3 linked regions of the Homo sapiens genome follow. The protein of the gene in region 2 purifies or fractionates together with the protein of the main gene of each other region. This does not show direct contact. Each region holds a gene or a part of one and is shown on either strand. Other genes may lie near its edges.

Region 1 (5,689 bases), about 120 Mb from region 2:
CCAGGAGCAAAGGGAGAGGCCTGGAGGCTGGGAGAGGTGAGATCTCCCAGCAGAGTCACACAGCTGACACCTGGCTCTCCTAGGGCCCAGGATGAGTCTTGAGGGAGGGGCAGGGGTGTCTGGGCTCGCACTGAGGGCATTGCAAAGGTCAGGCCTGGCTCTTGCAGTGGAGTGGGTAGTGATGCCCCTTTGCCCCCAGAGAGCCTTCCAGCCCTCACCTCCTTCCATTTCCCGGATGTCCTGGAGGAGGAGACCCAGGCTGAGAACCAGTGGGTCTGGCAGCCTCCTGTGTCTCTGCAGATGCGGGAGAACCCAGAGCTGGTGGAGGGCCGTGACCTGCTGAGCTGCACCAGCTCTGAGCCTCTGACCCTCTGAGAGATGATGTCCTGCCCAGGCCCGATGGCCACTAGGACCCTGCAAGCAACTCTGCTCTGTGACCAGGCCAGGATTCCTGGAGCTGGCCTGAGAGGGCTCAATGGACCCTCGGGGACCCAAGTGGGGCTTTCAACCCTCTCCCCCACCACCCAGCCCACTGCACTGAAATGAGACTTTATTCTGAAATTATTAAAAAGAACAGAGATGCTCCATTTGGCTGCATGCAGGGGGGGCGGTTGGGGGGACAGAGGGGAGGACAGGGGCTCAGCCAGGGGGACCGTGTCTCTTTCCCACGCAGGACACTGTGCATGGGGCTCTGGGTGCATCTGCCCATCTGTCTATGGGCCTGTGTGTGTGTGAGAGGCCAAACACAGAGAGCTCCGTGGGTCTGTGTGTATCCAAGTGCTAAAAGGCAGGCTGGCTTTCTGGGGCCCACAGCTGGCGGGCTAGTATCCTGGAAGGTTTCACTTGGTGGCTTGGCCTAGGGACCAGCAAGGGCTGGGGTGGGAAGGGTGGCTCAAGGAAGCCTCTTTCTCCAACTCCACACCCCTAGAATCCTTCTCTCCCCTCCAGATAAAAAGTCTCCTCCCCTGGGCATGACTCCCCCCACCCCGCAAGCTGAGACCTGCAAGAAGGGGACTGCCCCTTTGGGGGAGGGGTCGGGCCTTGGGGCTGGTGGGTGGGTAAGGGGGCCTGACTGAGGGGCAGACCAACCCAGCCTGTGTCTCTATTGTTGCCTCTGGGATTGGGGGGTGCTAACCGCTTACTTGCTTTGGCCTGGGGGTACCGCAGGGTTCCCTTTTCCGGAAGCCCCCCACAGGGCAGACCCGGGGAGAAGGGCTTCCCCAATCTGGCCCCCAGCCAGAATACACACAAGGGAGTGGAAGCTAAGAGCCGGGAGGGGGCCGGTGAAGGGAGGGAGGAAGGGGAACCTGGCTCCTCTCAGAACTGGGAGGCGCTGCTGGGGTCGCACTGCAGCAGACGCACGATGGACGGGTCGCTTTTGGCCCCGCGGATGAACTCCTCCAAGGACAGCTTGCCTGCAGGGCGAGGGGAGCGGTGATGGGGGAGGAGGCGGCAGCCTAGCGAGGGGAGGCGGAGCGGGAAAGGGAGGCAGGGAGGGAGGGAGGGAAAGGCGCCCGCCCCGTCCACCCCGTCCCGCCCCTGCCCCTCACCGTCGTTGTTTGTGTCCATTTGGCGGAAGATTTTCTCAGTCCTCTTTTCCGGGGTCGACTCGTCCTCCGGCATCTTCATCACGGACGAAACCATCTTGTAAATGGCCTGGGGGCGGGAGGGGAGGCGGGGAGTGAGAGGAGCCTGCCCGAGCCCCCACCCGCAAGATTCAGAGGCGCCCCCGGGCTCTCTGACGTTTGCTGCCCCCGCCTGGGCAAGGTGGAGTGGGGAATCACGGAGGCGTGGGGAGCCGAGGGCTTCGGGAAGGCGTGTCCGGGAAGGCCTCCCAGAAGAGAGGGCTATCGGGCGGGCCCTGCCGCGCTCCCTTGGAGGGCTGGGTGGGAAAGGAGCAAAGGCGCCGCAGGTGGAAGCTCCGAGCGGGCGCAGGGGTCAGGAGAGATGTTGGAGGACACCGGGGCCCGACAGTGGAGGGCCTGGAGCGGCGGGCTCAGGAGCGCGTGCCCCGGGGCACGCGCGTCGGGGGTAAGTACCGGGCTGGCACCCGGGCCCAGGGCGGCCCGCGCTCGGTGGTCGAAAGGGGGCGCCGGGCCAAGGGGGCGGCACTGCGCTGCGGGGCCGTCTGCTGCCGGCAGGGGGCGCGGCGCGGGCTGGAGGGCCAGAGGCAGCTGGGCCCAGAGGGGCGGGGAACAGTATGCAAATGAATGCAAATGAGCATCTGCAGCGGGCAGGGACCGCCAGGCTTGGCTAGGCTGGGCTGGGCAGAGGGCGGCAGCCGCCACGTGCAGTAGCTCCCGAGGCGACGTGAAAGAGAGTTCTTGCGCTAAATGTACAGAGCACGTAGGGCTTGGCCTGTAGCCTGGGTCGCAGTGCCTTGGAGCTCAAGGACCGAACCTGTCTCCTCAATCTTCCAGCTTTACCCGACCGACACTTCCTCCAAGAAGCCTCCCTTCTCCCATCCCATAAACTTCTGCTGCCTCAGATCCAGCTTCAGCCTCCACACTGGTCTCTTCCAGCCTCTGTCCCTCGGGTCTGTCCCCCATGCTGCCTCTGAAAGCTCTTTCCGAACACAGATCTCCACTGTTACGTCCCCAGCCTGCACACCACCCCCTCACTCCCGTCACACACAGGCCTCCTCTTAGGCCCGCCTTGCACCCAGCTCCTGCTGCTGCTTCCCACTTCTCCTTGGGGCTCAGTTTACAAGCTGTTTTCTTAGCGAGGTCTTCTCCAACCCAGGCTGGGTCAGGGTGCATATGGGCCCAGAGCCTGGCGGACTTTTCCTTTGCAGACATCTCTCCAGAAGTAATTATGTCTTTGCAGGGTTGTTCCTGCAAACATGGACGTCTAGCTAATGCCCATATCCCCAGAACCTGGGACCAGGCAGGGACTTCCCTATTTAAAAGCCATTGGCACTTCCCACTGCCCTCTGTACCAAGTTCAAACCATTCAGCCCTTGGGATTTAAGACGCTTTACAATCTGTCCACTGCTGACCCTCCTCCATCAGGTCTCCCCTGGCTGGGTGATTCTGCCAACAGCCAAACACCCCTGGCCCTTCAGATTCTCCAGCATTTACAGTCTTTGCCTGGAATAACGATACTAAGTACCACTTATCAGGGGCCCGCTCTGTGCCAAGTACTTCACATGCACTATTTCTAAACCTCACGCAAGCCCTGAAAAACAGGTATCATGATCCCCATTTTCCAGATAAGAAACTGAGGCTCAGAAGGAAATTGATGGCAGAGACTCGATTTGTACCTGTTCCCTCTTAGCTGCTGGAGGGATGCTTGGGCAGTGTGGGGTGGTGATAATCAGCAGGGCCTTTAGCATTAGACCCGGTCTGTAGTAACTGCTCAATGAATGGTAGCCACAGTTGTGACTGGATATCACTACCTGTCTGACCAGCACATGAATAGAGGGGTCTGGTAGTCTCAAGTTTCTAAAGTTAGATGGACCTGGAGTGGTGTCCTGGTTGAACTACTCACTAACTGTGTAGCCTTGGACATATATGTATCTGTGAGCCTCAGTTTCCTCAGATTAAATGAGATTATGTGTGAGGAACCGTGGCTGGCTAGAGTGGGTGGTCAGTAAACAGCAGCTCATATTATAGTCATTATTCATCCTCCACATCCTCAAGTCTTCCCTGCCACTCAGTAGTCCCCTGGTTCCCAGATGACACCTTTACACCCCTGTCACTGAGCTTGTCAGTGTGACCTACACATCTGTCTCCCCCACCAGAGTGGGAGCCCCAAGAGGCGCAGTCTCTTCCTCTCCAGTGTGTCCATTACCTGGCAGAGGGCTGGGTCTTGAGAAGAACTGGGCCAGTGACCAGTAACCCTGTGATAGCCTTCTCCTGGGCCTCCTAACTAATTGTCTGGAATTGCTGCTTACTCATGGTTTCATGGGAGCCAACTTGTCATTAATCAGGCACTGGGGCTTGCAGAGCTCTGTGTGCACCAGCTGTCTGGGGCCCCCGGGCCGCCCTAAAAGAAGCCAGGGTCTGGATAGCAGAGGCCACCAGAAAGGGGTCCTGAGGATGCCCAGGGAATGGGTCTAGCTTGACTGACACCCGGGCGTGGTGGCTCCAGCAGGACTGGGGTTTACCAGTACACACCAGTGCAACACACTAAGTGGTAAAATGCCAACATTCCTTCAGATAGTCAGTACCCAGCTGCTGTCCATGTCCGGGTGATCCTCCACCATTCTGGCCACCTGGCCCTACCATCAGGACCCCCAGATCCCCCTACCATCAAGCAACTAAAGAGTCAAATGCCTGGCTCACAGGAGTCCATGGCAAACATTAGGGCTTTCCCCTCTCTAGCCATAGGTATGGGGAGGGCATCACATCTCCACCTGGAGAGAAGACCCAGACCTTAGCAAGAGGAGAAGCCAAAGTCAAGAGTCCAGCAGTGGCTGGGGCAGCAGTCTGTGGAGCTGAGGGACCAGAAGGGAAAGGATTCAGAGATGCAGAAGGAAAGGGGGCAAGAGCTTGTGCAAAGCTGCGTGACAGGATTAGTCAGGGCACATTTCAAAGATGCTGAAAAGGCCCTTCTGGCTAGAGCAGAGGATGTGCAGAGGAGAAAATAATAACAGACAATTGCTAATGTCTACCAAGTACCAATTATATGCCAAGCCTTCCGCTCAAGTCCTTATCTCACTCTATCCCTGCAATAGCCTTGTGAGGCAGGGGATTAACACCCCCACTTTACAGGTGAAAAAATGTGTAAAGCCTTAGGAAAAAGGCAGATAAAATAGAGCCAGAGCCCTGGCCATCTTCAAGGCTGGGCTGAGGGGATGGGTGGTTTCTGAAATAAAGCTAACATGCAGCACACTTAAACTTGTACTAACAAAAGGCATTTATATCCGGTCCTTAAATCTCCTTGTGAAGTCAGTATGAGCGTACAGATGAGCAACCTAAGATTGAAGGCCACTTCCAGAACTGGAAGCCAGACCTCCTGGCTATGAGTCCAGAGCCCTCTCAGTAGACAGCTCTAAGTAGTGGCCAGCCAGAGCTTTTCTCCACTTATGTGCTGTGTGATTTTGGGCACATCACCTCACCTCTCTGAGCCTCATGGGGTTGTTGTAAGCACGCACTGAGCTCATGAGCACCTCACTCAATGCTAGGCTCATAGTGGGCCCTCAATCAATTAGTTAGAAGATGGCTGGGTATCCAGATGGAATGTAGACAGTGGTGCCAGATGGCCCACTCACACAGGCTGTGTGGCCTCAAGCAAGTGCCTTTATCTCTCTGAGCATCCGTTTCCTCTGGTGTAAATGAGGATCAACTAGACATAGCTGGACTGTGCTCTGCAGAAATGTCAATTCATAAAAGATAAAGAAAGGATGAGGAGCTATTCCAGATTAAAGGGGGCTAAAGAGACATGAGAACTAGATGCAATGCATGACCCCAGGTCAGGGCCAAAAATGCTATAAAGAACATTATGGAGACAGTTGGCAAAATTGGAATATGGTTGGTAGATTAGATAATAGCATTGTTTCTATGTTAAATATCCTGGCTTTGGTAATCATATTATGGGTTATGTAAGAGAATGTGCTTATTTTTAGGAAATATATCCTAATGTATCCAGGGGTAAAGGGCCAATGTTCAGAACAGCAAGAAAATGTTACACACTAGTGTGCACACACGCACACACACACTGATAATGATGAAGCAACTGTGGGAAA
Region 2 (7,682 bases):
GAAAAGGCATCATCCAGGGCTGGAGGTCTTGGTGATTCTGGATCTAAGGAAGAAAGTCATACACGTAAATAGGCTAAATGAAAGAGACTAGGCAGAAGCAAAGGACAAGGGTAGAAGAGTAAGATTTCCCTTCCCCAAGGAATCTTGAGATGAACCCCTTTGTCTTTTAACTTACCACCCCTAGGACTGCTATCTGCTTCGTGTCGGGTTACTGTAGTCTCTGTCCGGCCCTCACTGTCCACCACAGTCCGGCGCTCCTCCACTATCTACAAAGAGAAGTCCCCACCATATTCCGAATGTTACTAAAGGTTATGCTCAGCAGTTTCTTTACACAGATCCCTGTTTCAGGGCATTCGTTCCCTGGCCATACTTTCCTTTACCTCTTTCTTTCAACTCACCCCATCTGGTTTAGTGATCTTGGTCACAGAGATGCTCTTGAAATAGGATTTGGGCTGGGGCTGTAGAACCGGGCCAAGACCCTCCTGGGAAACCTGGGAATCAAGATCTGGAAGAGCAGAGAGATGAAGAAGCAGGAGAGAAAGAGTCCAAAGGAAAAAAGGAGACAAGTGTACAGGAAGAAACTTCAGGGAGGGAGAACACACAGAACTTCAGAAGAATAACAAAAGGCTGGTAAACTTCCCCTTCCTCCAGACTTACCATTGTCCTCTCTGGTTCTAGGATGGGGGTCCATAGGCCATACATCATCAAACTGCAGAAGAAACCATAGTAAGTGAAAAGACTCCTTCCAATCTGAAATTTGAAAGGTCATAGACCTCAAACTACTCCCGAGCTCCAAAACCCCCTTCCACAGAAGAGATAATTCCATTCAGAATAGCCTTATTTACACACTCCTTCCTGGCTGTTTTATGTATCCTTCTACCAGAAAGACTTCCTGAACTGATATATTCCTATCCTCTGTGCACAATCCTGCCTTATCCAAGAATTATCTAGACCAGTGGTGTTTTTTTGTTTTTGTTTTTTAAAAGAAACAGAACACCCATCTCCCCCCAAAGAAAATCCCACAAGCTTAATATAGAAAACAGAAAACACTAAATGGAGGGCTTAGGATTCCAACCCAAGGCTATCAGATTCAAACAAGAATTGCAATCTTTGGCCAGGCATGATGGCTCACACTTGTAATTCCAGCACTTTGGGAGGCCGAGGTGGGTGGATCACCTGAGGTCAGGAGCTCAAAAGCAGCCTGGCCAACACGGTGAAACGCCATCTCTACTAAAAACACAAAAATTAGCTGGGCGTTTGGCAGGCGACTGTAATCCCAGCTACTCAGGAGGCTGAGGCAGGAGAATCACTTGAACCTGGGAATTGGAGGTTGCAGTGAGCTGAGATTGTGCCACGGCACTACAGCCTGGGCAACAGAGCAAGGCTGGGTCTCAAACAATTTTTGAGATGGAGTCTCCACCTCCTGGGTTCAACCAATTCTCCTGCCTCAGCCTCCTGAGTAGCTGGCATTACAGGCACCTGCCACCATGCCCGGCTAATTTTTTGTATTTTTAGTAGACACGGGGTTTCACCATGTTGACCAGGCTGGTCTCCAACTCCTGACCTCTGGTGATCTGCCCACCTCGGCCTCCCAAAGTGCTGGGATTACAGGCGTGAGCCACCGCACCTAGCCAGTCTTTGCACTTTATTAGTGGTCTCTCACAAGCTCTCACTTCAGGACCAGATGGGATACTCACCCTATGAAATGGCCTCTGGGAGCCCCAGTCTGGTGCTGGTTGGGGGGATTCACTTCTTGCATCACTCTCCAAGACCCCCCCAAAGATCCTGGGCTGGTGACTATCTGGATACTTAAGCATTGAGTCCCGAAGTGTCTGTCCCTCCCGTAGTCTCTCACCAGGTGTCTCTGACTCAGGACCTGGAAGTTCTGCAGAAAGGTGGCAGGTGTTTGCTGGGATGGGAAAGGACTTGGGCTCTATTAATCTCTCTGAAATCATCAGTCTTCTCACACTTCCCATCCCCCAGCTACTCCCTGCAGGCTCTTTATTTCACCCACCAACCCACCAGAAACCACAGGTTGCCCCTTAGGGAAAGCCACACACCAGGAGGATGGGAAGGCAAGGTCCAGGCCCCCATATCGCTGAAGATGCTATTGAAATCTCGTACTAGGTCATCAAAGCCGAAGTTATCGTGGAAACGTATCCCTCCTCCTGGGCTGAAGCTGAAGCCGAAGCCAAATTCCTCAGGGGGGTGCTGAGGACTATGGAACCTTGGGTTCCCACGGCCCCATGAGCCCCCTTCTTCTTCTTCTTCCTCATCATCATCTTCATCTCGAGTCATCCCTCCAAAAAAGGGATCTCTGTGGCTGAGAGTGGAGGCAGATTGGCCACCAATATTTCAGCACTATTTAAGCCATTAAATCAACTCATGGGTGGCAAAGTGGGACAAGAGCAAGGGGTCTGGGAAGCTAGGGAGAGGGTCGGAGGACTGGCTGCCACATCAAAACATTAATACAATGGCTGACAGTTCTTTTTTTTTTTTTTTTTTTTTAATCAAAGTCAGACCTCAGCTCGCAGCTCCCTTCATACACCTTCCCCCAGTTTTTCTTCAGTGTGCCCCAGTCCCTCCTCTCTCTCCCAAGGTCCTGCTCACTTGCTCACTGTCTTATTCCCCAGACCCTCACGGTCTTCCCCGCCCGGGTCCCTGTTGCATCACCCCAGGTTGGAGAAAGGCTTAGTTTGCTGTTTCTCCTCTTAATGACCGCCTTGGTTACTGTGGCGGGGTGAGTGTTCAATGTTGCGACTTCTGTCCTCTCTGCAGGAGTTGAAGGAGTGGGACAGAGGATGTTTTTCCAAAAATAAGACGTAGGGGTCAAGCTCCCCTCAGACGACCCCCACCCTTGTCCGAGCCGGACCTACTCTCACCTCCGAGGTCCAGGAAAGCCGAAAAAGCCCCGGAAGAGATCAAAGAGGCTCATTCCCGTACTGGGACGCGAACCTTTGAACCCCTCCAGTGGTCCATTCGCAGACGGGGGAAACCTGCGCAGCCCTGTGAGAAATTGAGCGAGGCGTCAGCCCACGCTACCGGAAAGCAAGCCCGCGATCCTGACACTGTCGTAAACGACGGTAAGCCGGACGTGAAATGGAGGCGGGACCGAAGGTCTTCCTCAAATTTGAAAGGCTTTATCTTTACCCCACCTTTCAGAGACCAGTTTCCGTGACGGGAGTGGGCGTGACGCACTTTCAGTTTCCTATGACCGCCTTCCTCCTAAATCTGTTCTTCTTTCTGCAGACCAACTCAGTACGAAAAGCGATTTCGAGGGTTTGACTCTGGATGGCACCCGGATAAAGCCGCCAGAGGGCAGCCCAGCCGCACAAATGGACCGGCTTGAGGGCGTCCCTCAACCACCCCACCCGCGGGGCTGGCCAGCCTCACAGCAGAAGCCACCTCGCTCCTTACTCGGGCGTTCTTTTTGACTGACCTGGGCGATGTCTGCTGTTAGAGGGATGAACAAAATGCTTTTCCAAGCTCCTTCTAGTATTGAATTTCCCAGAGAAGAGATCAAGACATAAGAGACGCATGGACTTAACTTCCTCCACCTCTCTAGCTACTAGGGAGTTTGTTATAACTATATAGAATTCTTTTTTCTAAGCAGGCTCTGCAACCAGCAAGACAAAGGATTTTTAAGAAAGCAAGGGAAGGGAAGCTAGTTGAGTCCTGAGAAGGAACAAATTGGGGGTTATAAAGAAATATCCCTTTGGTATCTTTTTTTTTTTTTTTTTTTTTTTTTTTTTGAGACAGAGTTTTCTCTCATGTTTCCCAGGCTGGAGTGCAGTGGCACCATGTCGGCTCACTGCAACCTTCGCCTCCCAGGTTCTCTCCTGTCTCAGCCTCCCGAGTAGCTGGGATTACAGTCATGCGCCTCCACGCCCGGCTACTTTTGTATTTTTTGTAGAAACGGGGTTTCACCATGTTGACCAGGCTGGTCTCGAACTCCTGACCTAAGGTGATCCGCCCAACCCAGCCTCCCAAAGCGCCTGTCCTCATTCCTTTTTAAAAGTGTTTTGTTCAAAACCTCTCCGAGACCTGTCTCTCCCTGTACCCCATCCCCAAGCCAGACCTTGCTCTAGATTCTTTTTCAAAGAATTGGGTATAGCTATGTCACAGAGAAGCATCCAAGAAGCCACTACTACAGTAGTCCATTCCTAGGGGGAATGGGCCCCAAGGTTTTGTTTTTTTATTTCGTTTTTGGGGTACAGGTGGTGTTTGGTTACATGGATGAGTTCTTTAGTGATTTCTGCGACTTTAGCGCACCCATCACCCGAGCAGTGTACACTGTACCCAATATGTAGTCTTTCATCCCTCACCCCACTCCAAGATTTAGTTCTGCCAGACGATACATGTTGCCTTCACTTCTTTTTAGTTTATTTGCCTGGACCCATCTAAGTCATACTTAAAACTCTATAAAGCATTTTTTTTCTTTGAAATGGTCTCAGCTCCTTCTTGATCCTCTCCATTTTCCACCCAATCTCCTCTATCCCTCTCCCTTTACTGCCTGAAATCGGCTGTAGATGTAGCAGTTTCTGGAGGAAATGAAGATTTGTGGTGGTTCTTTCCAGTCACCAGGTTGTGAAAGTCTTAGGGGTGAGGGGAAGGAAATCCCCTCAAGGACAAGATACTACTACCACATTAAGGTCAGGAGTTCTTAAAGGGCGAAGATTTCATTTTATTCCACTGCCTTCAGGGGCCTGCTAGAGGAGGCCCAGTTGGTACAGTAATACTTATTCACCAAGCTGGTCATCGACGAAATTGAGGATGTCCTAGACGGAGCAAGAATAGGCAGAGGCTGAAGGTAGAGGTTTTCTTTTTATATATACAAGACACATTAATCCATTAAATTTGAGGACACAGTACAAAAAAAAAAAAAAAACAAAAAAAAAACCACTTCAACTAATTCATCTGACAATGCTGTTCATATTCATGACGCCATTTTTTTGTTTGTTGTTGTTGTTGTTTTCCTAATAATAAAGAAGGAGACTTAGGGCTGTTGGGCTGATATATGTTTGGGGGTCCCACCTCCCCGCCTCATCCGTACACCACCAGGGTGAACAGGAGGAAGCAAAGGAAGTGCAGGGCCCATAGCAAAGTTTCATAATCTTGAATGCAAGAGGGGAGAAGGAATGGAAGGGGGAAAAAAAAGGAGAAAATACAAATCCTATAATACATACAACAGGGTGGGGATGGTATAGGAATGGGACAGACATGAAGCTGAGGCATGGGGTGGGCCGCTGGGGGTGGGGGGCAGCGGAAACCCCCCACATTCCTTTCTCTTTGATGCTGTTTCCATAGTTTCCAGGCTGAGAAGCCCTCTCAGAAGATGGGACCGGGAGAAGAGGGTCAGGGCCTCAGTTGGCCCCCCAGCTGTAGCTGTTGTAGGCAGACTTGTTGGTCTGGGGCTTCTGCGGGATGGAGCTGGTCTGGCTACGTTGCCCGCTGCCCGTCTGCAGGGGAATGGGAGGATCATGAGGAGGAAAAAGGTGTCTAGTTAGTGGTACAAATTTGTAACATCTTCAGGTGGAGATGTGCAAACTGTCTTGCTCTCCCATTCCCCTCACTACTATTAGAACCATAGAAAATTTGGTCTGCATAGCTGCTAAAGCCCCTTTCTTACAAGCAGGAAGGCATTTTTGACTTTTAAATAGGGAAAAGATGAAGAGGGCAAGATACCTTTAGAGACAAGGTAGTGAGTGAGTTCTACTCATTTTCAATTCTACATTCTCACACTACCCCCTCTCTCCCCTGCTCTTGGAGATGGGTGATCACAAGGCAATTTCATTTCCATTGATCCCCATTAATGCCTCAATTTGGAAAGCTGTCTTTGAGGAAGGAAGCCCTTATTCTAGCTCCAGCCACCTATAATGGAGCTCTCAAGAGGCCACTTGCATCGCCCCACAGATCCCCACCCCTACCACACATCACATCTGTGAGCCCATTTCAGGCAGGTATGAGAGGCAGTCTGAGGCCTCAGGCTCCAGATGCTGCCCCAAGAATCTTTTCCATTCTGGTAACCGAATGTTTTCCACAGCTGGGGAAGGGTACAAAGATAAAGAGGGTGTTGGGGAGGGGAGGAGGAGAGAGGAAGGGGAGGCCAGAGAGCTCAGCAAGGTGTTTGTGTTTGTGTATCCCGATTTGTGACCGCGCAGTCTTTTCAAGTTCCCTGAGGCTGTGAAGGTGAAATGGGGACTGAAAAGGAGTGGGTTCAAGCATATGATCATTCAATTTCATTACCTGCTCCTCCTGCTGGCGCTGGCAACAGAGAATCATCTGCAAATATGGTAGCTGAGGCAGAACCAGGATATATGGAAAATAAAGGGACAAACTTTGACAATAGAACTCCACCATTAGAAGGGAAAGCTAAAATGTCAGGGAAGAGGGAAGGCTGGGAGAGGAAAGAGGGAAGGTGTGACCCAGGTCTGATGGGATGAGGACAACTGTGGCACAGGAGGAGAAGGGCACCAAAGGAATTGGGCAAAAAAGGTTTCAACCCGGCCCTTCTCTGAGATTTCCTTTGCCGGCCGCTCGTGTTATGTGCGCTTGTGTCTGTATGTGCTGTGTGCCCATGACTGGCGCTGGGGAGGGATTGGGTGAAGGTGGTGGTGAGGAAGGGTAAGAAAAGGAAAGGGAAGGCAGTTTTAAGGGATAGGAAGGAAGAGGAAGGGAAAGGAGAGAAGGGGAAGGGCTATTACCTGGCCATCCTGCTGCAGGTGATGGTGAAGGATCTGAGAATGCGGCTGCTGATGGGGGGTCAGAATGTGCATAAAGGGGGCAGGTGGGTAGGCAGCAGCTGTGGCCGGATTGATGGGGCCCCCACTTCCTAGGGCTGAAGGCAAGTTGAAGGAAGCAGCAGGAGTACCGGAATGAAAACCTTGTTTCTCAAAGGACTGCTATCCAGGAGGCCAGGAGGAGACAGAGTAAAAGGGATCAGCAAACTAGTCTTGGGATTTTTCCTGAGCTCAAGCTCCCTGACCCTCAGAAAGCAGCATGGTGTCACAGAAGGCACAGTACACTTGAAGTCACATATTCAGGTCTCAGTCTCAGCTCTGCTCTTATTTAAGAACTGTGTGAACCTGGGCATACTACTCAATCTCTTAGCCTCAGTTTCCTCAGATATAAAACAGGGATGCTACAAACCTGTTGTAAAGACCAAATAGGCTGGGCATGGTGGCTCACATCTGTAATCCCAGCACTTTGGGAGGCCAAGATGGGTGGATCACACAAGGTCAGGAGTTTAAGACCAGTCTGGCCAATATGGTGAAACCCCGTCTCTACTAAAAATACAAAAATTAGCCGGGCATGGTGGCGGGCGCCTGTAATCCAGCTACTTGGGAGTCTGAGGCAGGAGAATCACTTGAACCTGGGAGGTGGAGGTTGCAGTGAGTCAAGACTGTGCCACTGCACTCCAGCCTGGGAGACAGAGGGAGACTCCATCTCAAGAAAAAAAAGAAAAAAAAAGGCTGGGCGCAGTGGCCCATGCCTGTAATCCCAGCATTTTGGGAGGCCAATGCAGGCGGATCACCTGAGGTCAGGAGTTTGAGACCAGCCTGACAAACATGAAGAAACCCCGTCTCTACTAAAAACACAAAATTACCCGGGCATGGTGGCACATGCCTGTAATCCCAGCTACTTGGGAGGCTGAGGCAGGAGAATCGCTTGAACCCGAGAGG
Region 3 (7,033 bases), on a different chromosome or scaffold from region 2:
AAAGATGCTGTGTGGAATTTCTTCTCCCAGGTGGGAGAATACAGCGCAGGCCCCCAGGGTTTTGGAGTAGCGGTGACTTTTCCTGATGGTGGGCTGTAATGGGATTCTGGTGGAAGGGAATGTACTGGATGGTGAAATATCCCTGGAACTTGAGTGATGTCAGGGAAATGGTAACCAGACTTGGGTGACTATTCCCTAAACGCCATTGAGTAGCTGAAGAAAGACCTGACATGCTCAGGGTGAATTCAAGGCAAAATGTGAAAGCCAGAGGATCTCCCTGACTGCATTTAAGGAAACCCTCATCTCCTGCAGTCAGAGGGCAGACAGAAGGGAGGGCCAGGCTCAGAATTTAATTCTACGTGGTGGCGGAGCTTCGGAGAAAGTTGACTTCTCAGGCCCAGCACATCTCCTGGGCCATGCTCATGTCCCTAATAGGACAGGAGTAGGACTCTGAGATGGGGATATCTGGGCAGATGCAGTTAAACACCTTGAACTTACAGACTCACCTGCATCCACTGGGCCTGCTGAAGTAGACTACTCCCCTGAGTTAGAATATAGACCTTCTGCTTGAAGATAATGCAGAGGCCTCGGATGATGCAGGTGCTTTGTAAGACAATGCCTGCCCCCCTCAGAGTCTACCCCCCACCTACCCTCCTGGAAACCAGACCAAAAATTAGGGTGAAATCCTAGTGAAACCTGACTGGACAGGTTCTAGGCTTGCAAAGGGAGAGAAATGATCTGTAGAAGAACCTAAAGAATCTGGCTAGTACGTATTGGCAGGAGCTGGGAAGGTATGCATGAGACTGGATCCTGAGGACAATGGGCGAAGGAGGTAGAACAGGAAGTTGGTGTGCTCTCCCAGGATACGGAACTTAAAACCCTGGCGAGGACTCTAGGAAGTGTTACTAACACACTGGTATTTGGAAACCTGGAGTAAACAATGGCCCACACTAAGTGAAGCAGAACTTCCATGGCAGATTGCACAGGGAAGGATTAAAGGGCTCAAAGAAGCAGACATGTTGGAGTAGATATACTACTGAAGTCTGGAAAACCCACCAGCTGATTAAGGCCTGGAGGATACACTCAACTTATGAAATTAATAAGAAACATGCTGGTGAGGGTGGTACCAGTCACGCTGAGAAGCACAGTAGTGGTAAGGTGATAAATGAGTCCTGGCCCAGGTCCTGCTTACAGTGGGTCTGGTGGGTCTAGAGACCCACCCAGTGGTCACTTCCTCAGTTCACAAATGCGTAATTGCAATGGCATACTTTGTAGTTGTCAGAACCCCTACATGGGCTCCTCAGCCTGTGGGATAAGAGCTGTTTCAGTAGGGAAGTCCAAATAGAAGCTTCTAAAATGGCGCACACCCCCATGCCCTGAACAAAACAATAAACCACAAACAATATTGTGTGCATCCTATGGGTGATGATGGAAATCAATGCCACATTGAAAGATCTAAAGGATGCAGGGGTGTTGGTCTCATCTTATCTCCATCGAGTTGAGCAGTCTGGCCCCTGGAGAGGTCAGATGGGTCCTGGAGAATGCTTGCAGATTACTGCAAGCACAATCAAGTAGTACCCTTAGTTATACCTGCCATACTGGACACGCTGTCATTGCCAGAGCAGATTAATAAGACCTCAGGTACAGCAGGTGGCTGCTGACTTGGCAAATGCATTCTTTTTTATTCTGATTAGAAAAAAGGATCAGAAACAGTTTACACTCACATGAGACTGATGATAATATTCATAGATGGTCTTGCTGTAGGGCTATGCTATCTCTCTCACCTGGTGTCATAATATAGTCCAGAGAAACCTGGACTATCTGGACATCCCATGGAATAGCACACTGGACCACCACATGGATTACATCATACTGATTGTGCAAGATGAGCAAGAGAGGGTGAGCATATTGCCCTGGTAAGACACATCCACTACAGAGGGTGGAGGATAAACTCCACAAAGACTCAGGGGACCGATGCATTAGTAAAATTTTTAGGAATCCAGTGGTCCAGGGCAGTAAACCAGGACAGCCCCTCCAAAGAATAGAGCAAAGCATTGAATCACGCACCTTCCACCATGAAGAGGAAAGCACAATACCTAGGAGGCCTCTTCCCATTCTGGAGGCAGCATGTCCCCCACACACAAATAATGCTCTGACCCATATTCCAGGCGACATGTAAAGCTACCAGCTTTGTGTGAGGGCCAGAGCAGAAAAGGGCTCTGCAGCAGGTCCAGGCTGTGGTACAAGCAGTCCTGCCATTTAGGCCAGATGATCTGGCAGATCTTATGATACTGGAGGTGTCAGTAGTGGGGAAAGATGCAGTGAGGAGCTTATGGGAAGCCTGAGTGGGAGGCCCTTGGGGTTCTGGAGCAAAGCCATGCCATCTGCAGCAGAGAATTTTACGCCTTTTGAGAAAGACACCCCATTGAGGTGCTGGGCCCTGATAGAGACAGAATGCTTGACCAGGCACCAAATGATTGTGCATCCAGAAGTTCCCATTATAAGCTGGGTCCTGCTGGGCCCGCCAAATAATAAAGTCAGGTGGGCCCAGCAGTCAGGATTGAGCCCAAGCAGAACCAAGCAAGGTGCATGAGCAGGTAAGTAACCCTGATCCCCATGTCTTCCACACTGTTGTGCTAGTGCCTGTCTCACTAAGGGGACTCCTTAAAACTAGCTGATGAAAGAGGGAAAGGTCTAAGCTTGGTTCACAAATTGGTTGTCTTAGTATGTGGGTGGAAGCCAAAAATGGGCAGTGGTTGCACTATAACCCAACTGGAATGGCCTTGAAAGACAGTGGCAGAGCTCCCAGTGGGCAGAGCTTCAGGCTGTGCACCTGCTCATCTCCTTTGTGCAGAAAGAGAAGTGCCTCAAGATTAGAATACATATATCCACTTATGGGCAGTGGTAAATGGTTTGGCTGGTTGGTCAGGGGCCTGGAAATAAAAAGACTGGAAGATCCAGACAAAGAGGTCTGGGATACAGAAATGTGGGCAGACACCTAGGAGTGGGCAAGAAATGAGGAGTGAGACTGGGCGCGGTGGCTCACGCCTGTAATCCCAGCACTTTGGGAGGCCGAGGTGGGCGGATTACCTGAGGTCAGGAGTTCAAGACCAGCTTAGCCAATGTGGTGAAACCCCATCTCTACTAAAAATACAAAAATTAGCCGGGCGTGGTGGCGCACGCCTGTAATCCCAGCTACTCGGGAGGCTGAGGCAGGGGAATTGCTTCAACCTGGGAGGTGGAGGTTGCACTGAGCCAAGATCGTGCCACAGCACCAGCCTGGGCAATAGAGCGAGACTCCGTCTCCAAAAAAAAAAAAAAAAAAAAAAAAAGGGAGGAGCGAGGATCTTTGGATCGTGTGTTAACACCCACCAGACAGCATCTGCCATGGCGCCATGGAAGTGACACTAGGCAACCAGGTAGACAGCATGAGTCAGCCCGATGATGTCAGCCAGGCTCTAATCAGCCACCCCAGTGTTAGCAGATGGGCACATGAATAAGTGGCAATAGCAGCAGAGAGAGAAGCTATGTGTGGGGGCAGCAGTGTTACTGCTGAATGTCCAATCTGCCAGCAACAGAGACTAACATTGAATCCCTGACACGCCACCATCCCTCCAGAAGGCCAACCAACCACTTTGTGGCAAGCTGATTAGATTGGGCCCCTTCCATCCTGCAAAGAACAGTAATCGATTTTGACTGGAATATTCCATATTTGAGTTTGCCTTTTCTTACTGCAGGACCTCAGCCAGCTCACTGTCTAAGGGCTTACATAACGTTTGATCCACCAGCACGAGACCCTGCATAACACTGCGTCAAACCAAAGGACACACTTTATAGCAAAGTAAAGGAATGCAAAGCAAAGGAGGTGCAAAAGTGGGCCCATGACCATGGAATTAACTGATGGTATTACACACCACGCCACCCGGGAGCTGCTGGCCTGATGGAATGATGGAACAATTTGGTGCAGCCACAGCTAAGATCCCAGGTTGAAGGTGAGATCATGCAAGAATGGGCACCATCCTCCAAAACAGTGTCAACCCTAAATCAATGGCCATTGTAGGTGCTGTGTTCCTAACAGGTAGAATACACCGGTTTGGGGACACAGAGGTTAGGAAGGAGTGGCCCAGCTTACCAGCAATCCCAGTGATCCACTTTTGAAATTGTGCTTCCTGTTCCCTCAGGGCTCTGCAAGGTTAGAGGTCCTGGTTCTCCAAGGGGGAACACTGCTACCAGGGGACACAGCAAGAATCCCATTAAACTGTAAGCTATGATTGCCCTCAGGGCACTTCGTGTTTCTCATGCCAAGGGACATAAAAAGGAGCCATTGTCTTGGCAGGGGACGTGACCAACCTTGCTCCTCAGGAGGAGGTAGAGCTGCTGGTACACAGTGGAGGCAGGGAGGAGTATGTCTGGCACCCAGGGGATCCACTTGGGCATCTGTTGGTACTCCTTGCTCAACTTTGATAGTAAATGGGAAATGTGGTTGTTTGTACAGCAGCTACAGCCTGAGAAGGGCATGGGGACCAAAGGCTCAGGGATCTCTGCAGGATGGGAGCCACCCAGACCAAGAGTGGTGCTAGCTGAGGGTGGGGGGAATCTAGAATGGGTAACAAAAGAAGGAGAGGATGAATATCATTTATGACGTTGAAATCAACTGCAGCAGCAGAGACTATGGCTCATCTCACTACCGTGCTCTTTCAAGTGTCCCTGAGAAAACAAGACCGATTAGAATTCTGGAAATGCCGTTCCCCAATGGGGTGAACTTACTATAAGAAGGAAGTGGATCGGAGCAGTGCAAGGTGTGGACTATATGCTCCCCCCAGATCCTTACCTCCTTGTTCCAGACCTTTGCATCTATCCTCAGCTTCTGGAATTATCCGCTGCTGATGGCTCATAGGTGTCCCTCACTGGGCATTGGCCTCTGCAACAGGGATTTGCCTCACCCAAGATTACGCCTCCTCCCAGGGGGCAGCCTACAGCCAATGACTGACATAGGAATTCAAAGCCTGGCCACCCCGCTTCAACTGGGACAACTCTGAAGGGTCATTCCAGTGCCAGAGCTCCCCAGAGGATTGGCCGAGGCCTCTTTTGTGGTTGCATCACAGCTCAACTTTTCCCTCTGCACAATCCTGCTTCCCTCACAACCTCCCCCACAGGTGTTATTCCCAAGCGCTCTCCCCAGTAAATCTGCATGCAAATCTCAGAGTCTCGGGGTCTGCTTCCAGGGAAATATATCTGAGAAAAGAAGCCACAGTAAGAAATAAAGCTTATATAACCCACTATATATGTATTTGCATAATAACTCATCCTATATATGTATTATATAAGACACATATGTTGTACAGCAAATATGAGAATATAGAATGTCTTATATATTATGTAACATATAAAATGTTGTATATTACATATTATGTGTATATGTATTTAGAATGTATATAAATACATATGCATAACTGGAATTAAAGTTTCAATAGATAATTACCTTTACTATGTGTAATGCAGTCTGATTTTTCTATGCTATTTTATTTCATTTCATGAAGAAGAACATATACATATAGATGTATTATGTACTGTAAAGCCATTGTATAACACATGTATTACATACCGTATGTCATATATAATATACATTACAGATTGTATATCTTAATGGAATAACATTATATGTTTTGCTAAACAACAACTCCATTTACTATGTGCAATATGCTCTGTTATTCTCTATTTTTATTTATCCTACTTCAAGAAGAAAGTGAAATGCTGGTCATAAGCCAATAGGTGACCCATAGTTTGAGAAACACCAGAGAGCCGGGCACGGTGGCTCAAGCCTGTAATCCCAGCACTCTGGGAGGCCGAGGTGGGTGGATCACGAGGTCAGAAGTTTGAGACCAGCCTGACCAACATGGTGAAACCCCATCTCTACGAAAAATACAAAAATTAGCCAGGCATAGTGGCATGTGCCTGTAGTCCCAGCTACTCAGGAGGCTCGCTTGAACCCAGGAGACGGAGGTTGCAGTGAGCCGAGATCGTGCCATTGCACTCCAGCCTGGGCGACAGAGCAAGACTCCGTCTCAAAAAAAAAAAAAGAAAGAAAAACACAGGACAAAATTACCCACAAAATGGGGGAGATGAGTCTCAACTTAGAGTTTTCAACTTTAAACCACAGAGGAATTGAGACCCAGGAAGGAATGAGGGTGGTGAGGTTTGGTGGAAAAGGCGTCAGACTGTATTTCGGTGTACATTCCATCACAGAGTTTGCACAACTCCTGCTTTATTTGGGGCTGAAATCCCTGAAGCTAGTGTGGTTCTGAGTGTCTGCAAGTTGGTAAAACAGGTCTCTGTTCCCCACACTGAGCCTGGCGTACATACATAGGCTCTGTCCCTTTGTCCACCCCACCCCACATATAGTAGACACTAAATAAATATTTGCTAGATTGCCTGGAAGAAAAGACTGGAGGGGATGCTGGGATAAAGGGGGGCTTCTGAGATGCAGAAGGGGAAGGGATGGATCTTTCACTGAATTCAGCAGGTGCTCAATAAATGTTTTCTGGACAAAGAAAAAATGGAAAACATTGAATTTGTGATTATGGAAAGGGGAAGGGACTTGTCAGTATTCCATAGATAATAAATGCTTGATGGAAAGAAGGAAGCAGACGCAAAGGACCTGCATGGAGGGCTGGAGTGGAGACCGGAAGTCTAAAGGAGGGTGATTACCTATATCCAGCAGAGGCCTCATTGATGTTTGCTGACTTCAATGGAGCAAACTTAACCAGGAAGATAACACGTTGGTGAGTGGACGTTGGTGAAGGAATTACAGCACGTGCTCCATAAATGCTTTACAGATTGATAGAGAAAAAAGCGGAGAAGCCTGCTGCAGGGATGATAATGTGGCTGTTTGAAAATAATACAGTAAGAGATTAATAAGTGTTTTCTGGACTAATTCGGGGAGAAAAAGGCAGCTGGGGAGATGGCTACTAAGTGGAGGAAGAGGCCTAGCTAGAATAAATGGAAAACAGTGCACATTGTGAGCTTTCAGGAT

What was found. The genes of interacting proteins can lie anywhere in the genome.
Region 1: the proteins of HAX1 (region 2) and HPCA purify together in Homo sapiens (affinity purification with mass spectrometry; 3 studies listed by BioGRID and IntAct, with this or other methods). This does not show direct contact.
Region 3: the proteins of HAX1 (region 2) and SYN1 purify together in Homo sapiens (affinity purification with mass spectrometry; 3 studies listed by BioGRID and IntAct, with this or other methods). This does not show direct contact.

Annotation. Positions count from the first base shown.
Region 1 is NC_000001.11:32,889,491-32,895,179, reverse strand, and holds the end of HPCA (neuron-specific calcium-binding protein hippocalcin), read right to left. Parts: intron 1,657-5,689; coding exon 1,551-1,656; intron 1,416-1,550; coding exon 1,318-1,415; 3' UTR 534-1,317; downstream 1-533. Other genes in the region: TMEM54 (transmembrane protein 54), read left to right, coding at 247-375. UniProt on the Homo sapiens protein: Calcium-binding protein that may play a role in the regulation of voltage-dependent calcium channels. May also play a role in cyclic-nucleotide-mediated signaling through the regulation of adenylate and guanylate cyclases.
Region 2 is NC_000001.11:154,267,977-154,275,658, reverse strand, and holds the start of HAX1 (HCLS1-associated protein X-1), read right to left. Parts: upstream 3,031-7,682; 5' UTR 2,936-3,030; coding exon 2,883-2,935; intron 2,324-2,882; coding exon 2,061-2,323; intron 1,886-2,060; coding exon 1,698-1,885; intron 710-1,697; coding exon 658-709; intron 506-657; coding exon 399-505; intron 267-398; coding exon 176-266; intron 44-175; coding exon 1-43. Other genes in the region: UBAP2L (ubiquitin-associated protein 2-like), read right to left, coding at 5,364-5,459, 6,247-6,297, 6,705-6,902. UniProt on the Homo sapiens protein: Recruits the Arp2/3 complex to the cell cortex and regulates reorganization of the cortical actin cytoskeleton via its interaction with KCNC3 and the Arp2/3 complex. Slows down the rate of inactivation of KCNC3 channels. Promotes GNA13-mediated cell migration.
Region 3 is NC_000023.11:47,609,825-47,616,857, forward strand, and holds part of SYN1 (synapsin-1), read right to left. Parts: intron 1-7,033. UniProt on the Homo sapiens protein: Neuronal phosphoprotein that coats synaptic vesicles, and binds to the cytoskeleton. Acts as a regulator of synaptic vesicles trafficking, involved in the control of neurotransmitter release at the pre-synaptic terminal.